Regions from separate parts of the Homo sapiens genome. Here region 2 is linked to region 1. The links come from fine-mapping of genetic effects on gene expression. A gene starts in region 1. The other region holds a variant in brackets. All regions are shown on one strand. Distances are between the middles of the regions.

Region 1 (5,370 bases):
TTCTTCCAACACATCAAGCAAAATTCTATCCCAGGATATTTGTACCTGCTATTCTGACCGTAGTGCTCGTCCCTAGGTATCCACGTAGTCATAGCTCTCTTCCTCCCCTCCTTCAATTCCTGCTCACTGAGTTCTTCAACACTTATATAATAGTATCTCTTGCATGGTGATTTGAAATACCTTCACAAAATTTTTGATGCTCTGTCCTTCAAGAGGTGAAGCCTAAATTCCTTCCCCTTGAGTGGACTAGACTTAATTATGTACTTTCACAAATAATGTGGCATAAATAACAGTGTGTGACTTCTAGGACTAGGCCATAAAAAGCATTGCTGTCTAAAGAGTCTCTCTTGGATCATTCTGGGGGAAACCAACTGCCATGTTGAGAGGACATACAAGCAATCCTATGGAGAGGCCCATATTGCGGGGGGAACAGGCCCCCTGCCAAGGGCCATGCAAGTGAGCCATTTTGGAAGTAGATCCTCCAGTTCCAGTCAAGCCTTCAGATGACTGCATCCCTGGCCAACCTTTTTACTACAACACCTTAGAGGACAATGAGTCAGAACCATCCAGACCCACAGAATTGTGAGAAAATAAATGTTTTTGTTTTAAGCTGCTAAATTATGGGGTGATTTGTTACACAGCAATAGGTAACTAATGCCCCCTTTTATGTTCCCCCCAACCCAGCTACATTTTTCTCCATGGTACTTACCACTATCTGACACACTGTATATTTCCCCCACTTAGAATTGTACCATTATAATAAGGACTTTGTCTTATTTGCTCCTGTGTCCAACAGTGCCTGGCAAAAAAAATAGATAATAAATATGTGTTGGATGAATGAAGCATGGGTCTCTGAAGGTCTAGGTCTGTCTCCGTCTCTGTGAGGTATAAGACCAGACTGCGGGTATGAGAGGCAGCCTTTCCTTTTCACAGATGAAGAGAGATAAACCAAGTCCCAGTCAAGCATATTCCTTCCCCTCAGCCCTTCCCAGTTGTAGCCCTCCTGGCCCAGACCCCAAAAGTGGATTAACTTTGCTTGATTGATTTGGGAGCTGGGGGAGTGACTGCCCAGCCCCTTACCATTCAACCCAAACCCTACAAAGCGATCTCCAAACACTCAGAACTGGAATTTCCCCAAGCCAATTCCTACCTTTCTAGGAAGACTCTGGCCACCTACCTTTGTCCATGGACCTCCTCTGAGCAGCCAGGGGAAGCTGTGGTGGGGAAAAGGGAGCAAGCAGGGCACAAGGGTTCTGTGGATTGCTACCCTCTGCTCTCCAGTCTTCCAGTAGACTTCCAGGGCATGTCTGTCTGCCTGGCACATTCACTGATTCTCCCCTCCCAGCATCAGGGAGGGTTGGGCAGAGGAGGAGGCTTGGCTCTGCCCCAGGATACTCACACCAAACAAAGCCATGGGGGAGGAGGCATCAGTACCGACAGTGATTGGATCACTGGAGCTTCTGGAGGCTGGGGGGTTCTGATGGGCTCAGAGGTCTGAAATCTGAGGTGGAGGACACTGGGGCAGCCAAAGGAATGAATGGGGTGAGCCTCAGCGTGGCCAGGAATGGGCCATAGAGAACCAGGACTTAGTGCTGCAGTAGAAGCTGGGCACAGAAGGGTGCAGAGAAGGGTGGCGGCTGGAGGCAGGGAGAGCAGGGAGGAGGCACCCACCATGGTCAGACCCACCATGGTCAGAAGAGCCGGTGGTTTGAGCCAGAGCAAGCTGAGGCTGAGAGGAGTGGACTGATTGGGAGAGGACAAGGGAGGAGGGAGGAGACAAAGGTCGTGTTTGGATTCCTGCCTTCTGGGGGTGTGAGGTCAGAAGACAGTCTCTGGTGCCACAGTTTCATACCTATGCCAAGTGTCACCCCTACAGACACCTGCTGTTCACTTACACACTTGGCATCACCTCACAGTGTCCCTCTGTTTGGTAAGTGGTCCCCTTGGGCACAGGAAGAAATAGGAAGTATGAGGATTCCCGGGAGGAGTGGGGTCCAGGCTGTTCAGAGCAGAAATTCTGAGAGGCCTGCCACTCAGAACCCCCAAATAAGGAACAGCATTTCAGCGTCTTGGGAATAGTTAGGGGGAGGGCGCAAAGCAGTGGGCTGAGGGGGTCTGGAGATACAGATGTGGCAGTCAGGCACACATAGGTGGAGAATGTGTGTGAACATGGGCGAAGTGCCGGTCACTGTTGAAACAAACCTATGATGAGTACCAGAGGTTCATTATACTATTCACTTGTCTATGTTTCAAAATTTTCATAATACAGGCTGGGTACGGTAGCTCATGCCTGTAATCCCAGCACTGTGGGTGGCCAGGGTGGGTGGATCACTTGAGGTCAGGAGTTCGAGACCAGCCTAGCCAAAATGGTGAAACCCCATCTCTACTAAAAAGACAAAAATTAGCCGGGTCTGGTGGTGGACGCCTGTAATCCCAGCTAATTCCAGCTATTCGGGAGGCTGAGGCAGTAGAATCACTTGAACCTGGGAGGCGGAGGCTGCAGTGAGCCCAGATCGCGCCACTGCACTCCAGCCTGGGTGACAGAGACTCTGTCTCCAAAAAAGAAAAAAAAGAAAAGAAAGAAAAAGAAAAGAAAAGAAAATTTCCATAATAGAATGTCAAAAGAGACAAAAACTGTGTGTGGCTGTGTATCTGCATGCGGTGAGTGTGCAGTCAGCTTAAAGACCTCTGAGAGTGTGTGAGTGCATAGGTGTGGGTCCACCACCATGTGCACTCATGTGTGCAAACCGCAGCATGCCCGCAGTGGGGGACAGCACGTAGGCAGGGCAGGGGTGCTCAAGGCAAAGGGAGAAGCTTCTATTCTGACCAGACCCTCCACGCACACCCCAGCATCTTGCAGAGGGATTCCCCTCTTGATCACAGCGTGCCCAGGCCATTGGCACTGTGGTGACCATGTCACGGAACGTGTGAGACTGGGAAGCTATGCGCCTGAACTTGTGACAAGGTGTGTTGGTGTGTGGATGCGGCTATTTGTATGTGGAAGCCCAGTGCCGAGTGTGGGTGTCGGGGGCACGACTTGTGAGGCTGGGCGGGGCTCTGGTCCGGAGTCCGGTGGCGGTAGAGCCCTCATTTTCGCACGATTCCCCCGCAGCTTTCCAGCGCCCCCTGCCCCCGAAGCTGGCTGGAAAGAAGGTGGGAGACACCTGTTGGGGAGCTGAGAGCGGCAGATCCCACAGGGGCCTCTCCCCATGCGCCCCGCCCGCCCTGCCCCGCTCGGGTCCCGCCCCCGCGGCCGCCGCAAGCAGCGCGGCGAGTGAGCGCACAGCCGCCAGAGGAGCACAGGGCGGCGGGAGCGCACCGCCGGGACCCAGCCGAGGCCAGGGCCGCCTGGGAGGCGGGCGGAGCAAAGGCAGCGCCGTGGAGACGCCAGGGGCAGCGGGCCACGCCAGGCAGGTGAGTGCGGCCGCGGGGCGCCCGGAGCGAGGGAGCCGGGCGTCGCGACTCTGCCGCCTCCTGCCCGTCCGGTCCCGTGCCCGTCCCAGGCTCTGCCCCACCGCCCTCCATCCCCGCGACTCCTTGGTCCCTGTCCTCTGCCCCTCTCTCCGGCTGTTTTTCCCGTCCCTGTCTCTGTCGGTCCCTCTCTATTTAACTGTCTCTTTCTAATCTCTCTCTTCTGTCCGTTTCCTGCTGTCTTGGTCTTTCCCTATATCTCAACCCCTGTCTATTTGTCTATCTCCGCCTCTGTCTCTCCGTCTCTGTCCGTCTCTGAGCTACCTGTCACTTAGGTCTTTTATCTGTTGCTCCTCTACCTCTCTTACCCTCCCTGTCTCTCTACCCAATATTCTATCTCTCTCCATCTCTGTCTGTCTACCCTGTCTCTGCCTGATACCTCTGCCTCTCTCCATCTTGGTCCCTCTCAGTCTCTGTGTCACCCCACTTCTGTCTCTCCTTGTCACCCTGTTCCATCTCTATTTTCACATCTCCCTGTCATTGTCTCTGTCGGACATCCCCCTTCTCCTTTTCTTTCTCTCTCCCTTCCTTCACCATTTCCCGATGTCTCTTGGTCCCCGTCACCCTCTCTGATCTGCTCACTCTTCCAGTCCTCAGTCAATGGCCATTTGATTCCCCGGGTCTGGTCCTGTTTCTGTTCACCTCTGGGAAAGCCATCTTTCTGCCTCTTTCCTTGTGACCCCTGCACTTCCCTGAATCCATGACCACCTCCCCCTGTGTTGGGGGGCTCTGGGGGCAGTAGGGCCCAGCACCCATAATTCCCTCCCCCACAGGCGGCCCTTTCCTCGGGGTCCCGCCTGGTACCAGGGACCCCCTCAGCTGGGGGACTGCGCCTGGAAGCTGTCATGGAGGCCCTGCAGAAGCAGCAGGCAGCTCGGCTGGCCCAGGGGGTGGGGCCATTGGCCCCTGCATGCCCGCTGCTGCCACCGCAGCCTCCCCTGCCTGACCACCGGACCCTACAGGCCCCTGAGGGGGCCTTGGGGAATGTTGGGGCTGAGGAAGAGGAAGATGCTGAAGAAGATGAGGAGAAGCGGGAGGAAGCCGGGGCAGAGGAGGAGGCAGCTGAGGAGAGCCGTCCAGGGGCCCAGGGCCCCAGCTCGCCTTCTAGCCAGCCCCCTGGACTCCATCCCCACGAGTGGACCTACGAGGAACAATTCAAGCAGGTAGGACCTATGCCCTCAATGTCCGGCCCTCTTCCCTATCTCTCTCTTCTGGCAAAAGCACAGCCAGGTGATTAGCAGCCCACCCACCCCCACCACCCTCTGCAAGATGAAAAGAGACACAGAGACACGGAGACCTATAGAAAGACAGAGAGAAGATTGGAGGATAGTGACAGGGAGGGAAAGACAGATGCCTGGCTAATTTTTTAAAATTTCTTTTGTAAAGACAAGGTTTTCTTGTATTGCCCAGGCCGGTCTCGAACTCTTGACTTCAGGTAATCCTCCCACCTCAGCTTCCCAAAGTGCTGAGATTACAGGGATGAGCCACCATGCCCAGCCAGGTGTAGGGAAGGCAGTCTAGGGGCTGGGGATTCCAATGCCAGCACCACCCTGCCTACCTTCTCACACATCAAGTCACAAGGTCATATTCCAGTGACCAGTGGGGGTGACCCAGTTGCTTCCTCTGTCTTTGGAAGCAGAATGGAGGTTATCACTCACTTGGCAGGCTGATACACCTTTCCTTTCTTTCCTGTCACCTCCTCCCTAACCCTGGCCCCATGCAAATCTCCCTGGCCTGAGTTCCACGGATGATAGTTCCCAGCCTGGGATGGCCACTACAGCCGCAGTATGACTAAAGGGCTCCTCCGCAACTCAGAATGACAAGACTTCATTCACAGGGCCTTAATCTGAGGTTCTTTCTCCCTGGAGAACCCTTCTGGGTGTTATTCTAAGGACACTA
Region 2 (5,370 bases), 61 kb before region 1:
ACTTTTCATCAGATTTCAGATGTTTTGTCATTATTTCTTCAATTTTTTTAATGCCCTGTTCTCTCTATTCTCCTCCTGAGACTCCTGTGATGAGGTATATTTGATGGTATCCCTGAGGCTCGTTTGGATCTCAAACTTTAGCACATATCAGAGTCACTTGGAGGGTATGTGAAAATGCAGTTTGCTGGACCCCATCCTCAGAGTCTCAGATGTGGTAAGTGGGAAGTAAAATCTAAGAATTCGTGTTTCTAACAAGCTCCCAAGTGATGCTGCTGCTGCTGCCCAAAGGCTACTCTTTGAGAACAACTGCCACAGGGGAAATTATTCACTGCCAGAACTGCAGCAAGATGAAGGATTTGGGGAATTAATACCCCTCTCTCCTTCCACCACTGATCAGTTGCTGCTTCCCATGGGCCAGCCCCAAACAGAAGCCAGAAAGCAGGTGACCCTAAGTAATGCTATCTGCAGAGGTCAGCCTTCCAGGGAGCAGAGCAGGGCCGTGAAGAGTGGAGAATGGATAGGCTGGGGCAAACAGAATAACCAGAACCATCATGGACAGAAGAATGGATAGATCAATGGAAAGAGGGGTGGATGGATGAATTAATGAACAGATACCTGAATAAAAGGATAGAAGGCCAGGCACGGTGGCTCACGCCTGTAATCCCAACACTTTGGGAAGCGGAGGCAAGCAGATCATTTGAAGTCAGGAGTTCGAAACCAGGAGTTCGAAACCAGCCTAGCCAACAAGGTGAAACCTCACCTCTACTAAAAATACCAAATTTAGCCGGGCATGATGGTGGGTGCCTGTAATCCCAGCTACTCAGGAGGCTGAGGCAGGAGAATCCCTTGAGCCCAGGAGGTGGAGGTTGCTCTGAGCCAAGATCGTGCCATTGTACTCCAGCCTGGGTGACAGAGTGAGACTCTGTCTCAAAAAAAAAAAAAAAAAAAGGACAAAAGAAGAACAATGGCTAACAGAGCTTATTGTGCGTCAGCCTCTAAGCTAAGGGCTTTACTCAGGGTTCCTCACTTAATCCTAAGAAGTAGATCTTCTACCATTCCCATTTTACAAATAAGGACACTAAGACACAGAAACTGGAGAATTTTCACCTTGTCGCAGTTAGTAAGTGGTGGAATCTGAATCCCAAGCTAGGCGCTCTGTCTGCAGAGTCTCCCTCCTCTGCACCGTGACTACCCGTGCTGTGCCATGACCAAGTGGCAGACAGGCGGTGTGGAGTGGAGGTAAAGACTGCAAACCCTAGAGCACACCTGGGTCCAAATCATGCTCCAGTACTTACTAGCTGTGTGGCTTTGTGCTCTGAGCCTCATGTTCCTTATGTGTAAAATAAGAATAATAATGTGAAAATAAGAAAAACTACATCAATGGTATTGTTTTGGGAAAGTTAAGCAAGGTAATAGTGGTAAAGTCCTTGACATAGAGCCTAGCACATAGTAAACAATCAAAAATACCATTACTATTATTATGATTAATGAATGGAAAGAAGCTAAGTCAGAAATTTAAGAGGGAAATGTTCCCCCTCCCTCTCTCCATCCAAAAGAGGGTCTAGGGTTTGGGTGACGACGGGTGACTGGGCGTTTCACATTTAGTTTCTCTTTCAAGGCCTTCTCTTCTGACCTTTCTCATAAGGATGGGAAGTCACTTGTCCCCTCCCCCATCGGCCGATTCCTTGAAATTTTAAGATTTGTCTGAATATGAGCTGGCCAGCCCCTCTCCTTAGAAATCCCCTCTTGGTTCCCAGGACTGAGAAAAGGGGGAAAATGAAGGGGGCTATTCCAAGCCAGTCTCCCTCCAGCTGTTCCTTTGACCCAGGTGTTGGACATAGGAAAACAGTAAATAGAGGAAGGGGAGGGTTTGCTGAGCCCCAGAGGCCTGAGATGTGGGATGGGGGTCCTGGGCCTCCTCCCAAGGTACCTGGCCTTTCAGCTCTGCTTGCCCCAAGGGAAGGACTGGTTCCCACATAGTGGGCAGGCACAGTGATGACCTTGGAGGCCACCCCAGGATCTCATGGTTGTCCTGAGGGTGCCAGGGAGCCTTCTTCACCACCAGCCCAAGAAAGAAGCACCAGTGAGGACAAGGGATAAACCTAAGGAAGGGAGCACAGTTCCTCACTGTGGGCCCCACCTTTGACCATCACTTCTGAACCCCAGCTTCATGGTTGATGATGCAAATGCCATCAATGGGATGACAGGGCAATCCCTCTCTCTGGAGAAACAGTGCACAGCCCCCTTTACTGGGCCAGACTGCAGACTTAAGTTCTCAGAGCAGGAGCCAAGGAAAGCAGAAGGAAAGGGCAACCGCAGGGGGAAGAAGGGGGGCAGGGTGCGATTCTGCCAGAAAGAGGGGGGCAACAGGGGAATCACAGAATGGGACATGAAGGGGAATTTCAGGCAGAGAAAGTGAAGCTCTGGCCATAAATAGGAGTCAGCTGCAGGGCTCACATTCCCAGCCTCACATCACTCACACCTTGCATTTCACCCCTGCATCCCAGTCGCCCTGCAGCCTCACACAGATCCTGCACACACCCAGACAGCTGGCGCTCACACATTCACCGTTGGCCTGCCTCTGTTCACCCTCCATGGCCCTGCTACTGGCCCTCAGCCTGCTGGTTCTCTGGACTTCCCCAGGTAAGGCTGAAGGGAGAGTCAGGGTCAGAGGCAGTGGGGGGCTGGCAGTGGGTAATGTCTAGATCTCAGATTGCTTGGCACTGGACGTAAGGGACATGGTGAGTTCAGGCAAATGCTTAGGTCTGTATATTTCGGTGAGCCTGGCAGGTCCCTGCATGTGTGCCTGTAAGTGTGGGTGTCCCTGTGCCCCTGAATCCCAATGCGGGTGTGTCTTTTAGCACATCCTGGGGCCTATGGCTGTGACTGTCTCTGCAAGCTCTATTTCCTGCTGCCTCC[G/A]TTTCCCAGGCAGAAGGAGATTTGCTTAAGGTAGGGAGAATGGCAGACACTAAGCCAAGGCTGATATTCAAAAATTTTAGCAATTAATAAGGCTCCTAACACCAGCCTACCCTACCCCACGCCCCTCCCACACTGTGACCTGCATTAACTCTTTACTTGCTGGATTGTCCTGGGAGAGAGGTTGGGGTGATCAGGGCAGCAGGAAGTCATTTGTGGGGCTCAGGGCAGTGGTTATTTACAAAACAGTTTAGAAGTATGACAATATATTTAGCAACCAGTAGAGCCAGAGCCATATTGGTGCATAATGGCTGAATACCAGGTCTAACTCCTCCCCGACCCCACCAGACACACACACACACACACACACACACACACACACACACACACACAGGTGTCCTCAATCCGAGCTAGGGCCATGGCCATGCCACCCTCAAGGGTCCCTGTGTCCTGTCACCTTCTTTCCCCATCCCAGCCCCAACTCTGAGTGGCACCAATGATGCTGAAGACTGCTGCCTGTCTGTGACCCAGAAACCCATCCCTGGGTACATCGTGAGGAACTTCCACTACCTTCTCATCAAGGATGGCTGCAGGGTGCCTGCTGTAGTGTGAGTTGTGGGGAGGGTGTCTAGCCTCATCTCCCGTTTTAGCCCCTGTTGAGACTCCCACCTTCTTATTCCCCTTCTCCATGCCAAGCCCAACCCCTTCAAGGAAATCCCTGAAACAGGTTCCCAGACATGGTCCCCAGGCATGCTGGATTCTGGGGCTCCATTCTCTCCGGCCTCTCACCCCAGGTTCACCACACTGAGGGGCCGCCAGCTCTGTGCACCCCCAGACCAGCCCTGGGTAGAACGCATCATCCAGAGACTGCAGAGGACCTCAGCCAAGGCAAGCCTGGCCCTCCCTGGCCCTGTCTCCTCCCTCTGAGCTCCTGTCTAAGATTCCAGCCCATGATCCTTCCTCTCCTTCCTCCTCTAGATGAAGCGCCGCAGCAGTTAACCTATGACCGTGCAGAGGGAGCCCGGAGTCCGAGTCAAGCATTGTGAATTATTACCTAACCTGGGGAACCGAGGACCAGAAGGAAGGACCAGGCTTCCAGCTCCTCTGCACCAGACCTGACCAGCCAGGACAGGGCCTGGGGTGTGTGTGAGTGTGAGTGTGAGCGAGAGGGTGAGTGTGGTCAGAGTAAAGCTGCTCCACCCCCAGATTGCAATGCTACCAATAAAGCCGCCTGGTGTTTACAACTAATTGATCACAACCTGTTACAGATTTCTTTGTTCTTTCTCCACTCCTACTGCTTAACTAGCCTTAAAAAAAAAAAAAAAGGCACCTGGCACCCATAGATCTGTCTGCTGTCCGTTTGCTGTCTAGCCAGGTGGACAGGAATAGGAAGGGGGAGGTGGAATGGCAGGATCTATTTTCTCTTCTGTGGCCTAGGGGGTCTCCTTGCTCACCTCCACTTAACAACCTGATGCTCTCAGGATCAGCCTCATTGCTTTCCATAGTTCAGCGACACTAAGCTTGGGTCAGTTCCCTGAATGAGCCAGCGTCTCATGCCTCCCACTCTTTGCTCTCCAAGGCAGGTGTTCAAGCATCCAGGTGTCTAAGGAATCCAGTGTCACTGGGGGGAAGGGAGTTGTGGGGAACCAGCTCTCACGGCTGGGGGAGGTGGAGTGGGGCAAAGGGCCCAGCTCTACTGCCTGGGGGAAAATACCCATCCACCCATGCCCTTCCCTTGGTCTGGCACACTCTTCTCTCTCCTCTGCCCACCTGGCTTCCCATCTGGGTCCAGACGCCTCTTCCTCCAGGAAGCCTTCCCTGACCCCAGGCTGGGTTAGGTAGCCTCCTGCAGTGGCCCCTCACAGCATTCATCACCCTGACTTATAGTTGCTGGTTTGTCCAAATTTGTCCATGTTCTTGGACTGGGATCACATCTATTTTGGGTTCCACTGTTTTTGTGGTGTCCAGCATGCTGCTTGGCACAAGGCAGTCCCTCAATAAATATTTGTTTAGAGAATGAATAAATATGTGAGGAAAGGCTCAGCAGCCAGGGCTGAGGGTCCATCTGTTCATTCTGTCCATACAGAATCTGACCTCCAGGCCAGCCTTCCTCTCTCAGCCAAACTGAGCAAGGTCCAGCCCCATCTTTGCAATCCTGGGGCCATGCCTCTCAGGGACACCGACAGACAGACCTGGGAGTCAGAGGTCAGAGACAGGAGAGAGGCCCACGGGGTGGAAGAAGGAGTAGCCAGGGAAGCACAGGAGATTCCACATAGAGGAGCCCTACCACCACCCCTACAGTCTACATGGGCTCCAGGGCTCAAAGGCAACACTGAGACCAGAGACATCTCCCCAGATGAGACCAGAAAGGAATCTCAGCTCTGGGAGATGAGAGCCGTGTGACTCTTGGAGCATCCCACAGGGCTTCTCTGTACAGAGTGAGTGCCTCGTACT

Evidence for each region. PIP is the estimated chance that this variant, and not a neighbour inherited with it, causes the effect.
Region 2: its variant is the best candidate, but not a certain one, in a credible set for the expression of ARID3C in cerebellar hemisphere (GTEx, PIP 0.70).

The regions. Positions count from the first base shown.
Region 1 is chr9:34,626,961-34,632,330 of GRCh38, reverse strand. It overlaps ARID3C (AT-rich interaction domain 3C), which reads left to right and starts at 3,265. Exons shown (of 8, transcript NM_001017363.4): 1 at 3,265-3,414; 2 at 4,245-4,634. The coding sequence starts at 4,317. RefSeq lists silencers at 3,147-3,306, 3,357-3,456.
Region 2 is chr9:34,688,364-34,693,733 of GRCh38, reverse strand. It overlaps CCL19 (C-C motif chemokine ligand 19), which reads left to right and starts at 2,458. Exons shown (of 4, transcript NM_006274.3): 1 at 2,458-2,643; 2 at 3,392-3,524; 3 at 3,711-3,804; 4 at 3,895-4,164. The coding sequence starts at 2,595. The coding sequence ends at 3,915. It also overlaps a transcript of PHF24 not described here. The variant G/A (reference allele first, on the strand shown) is at 2,920.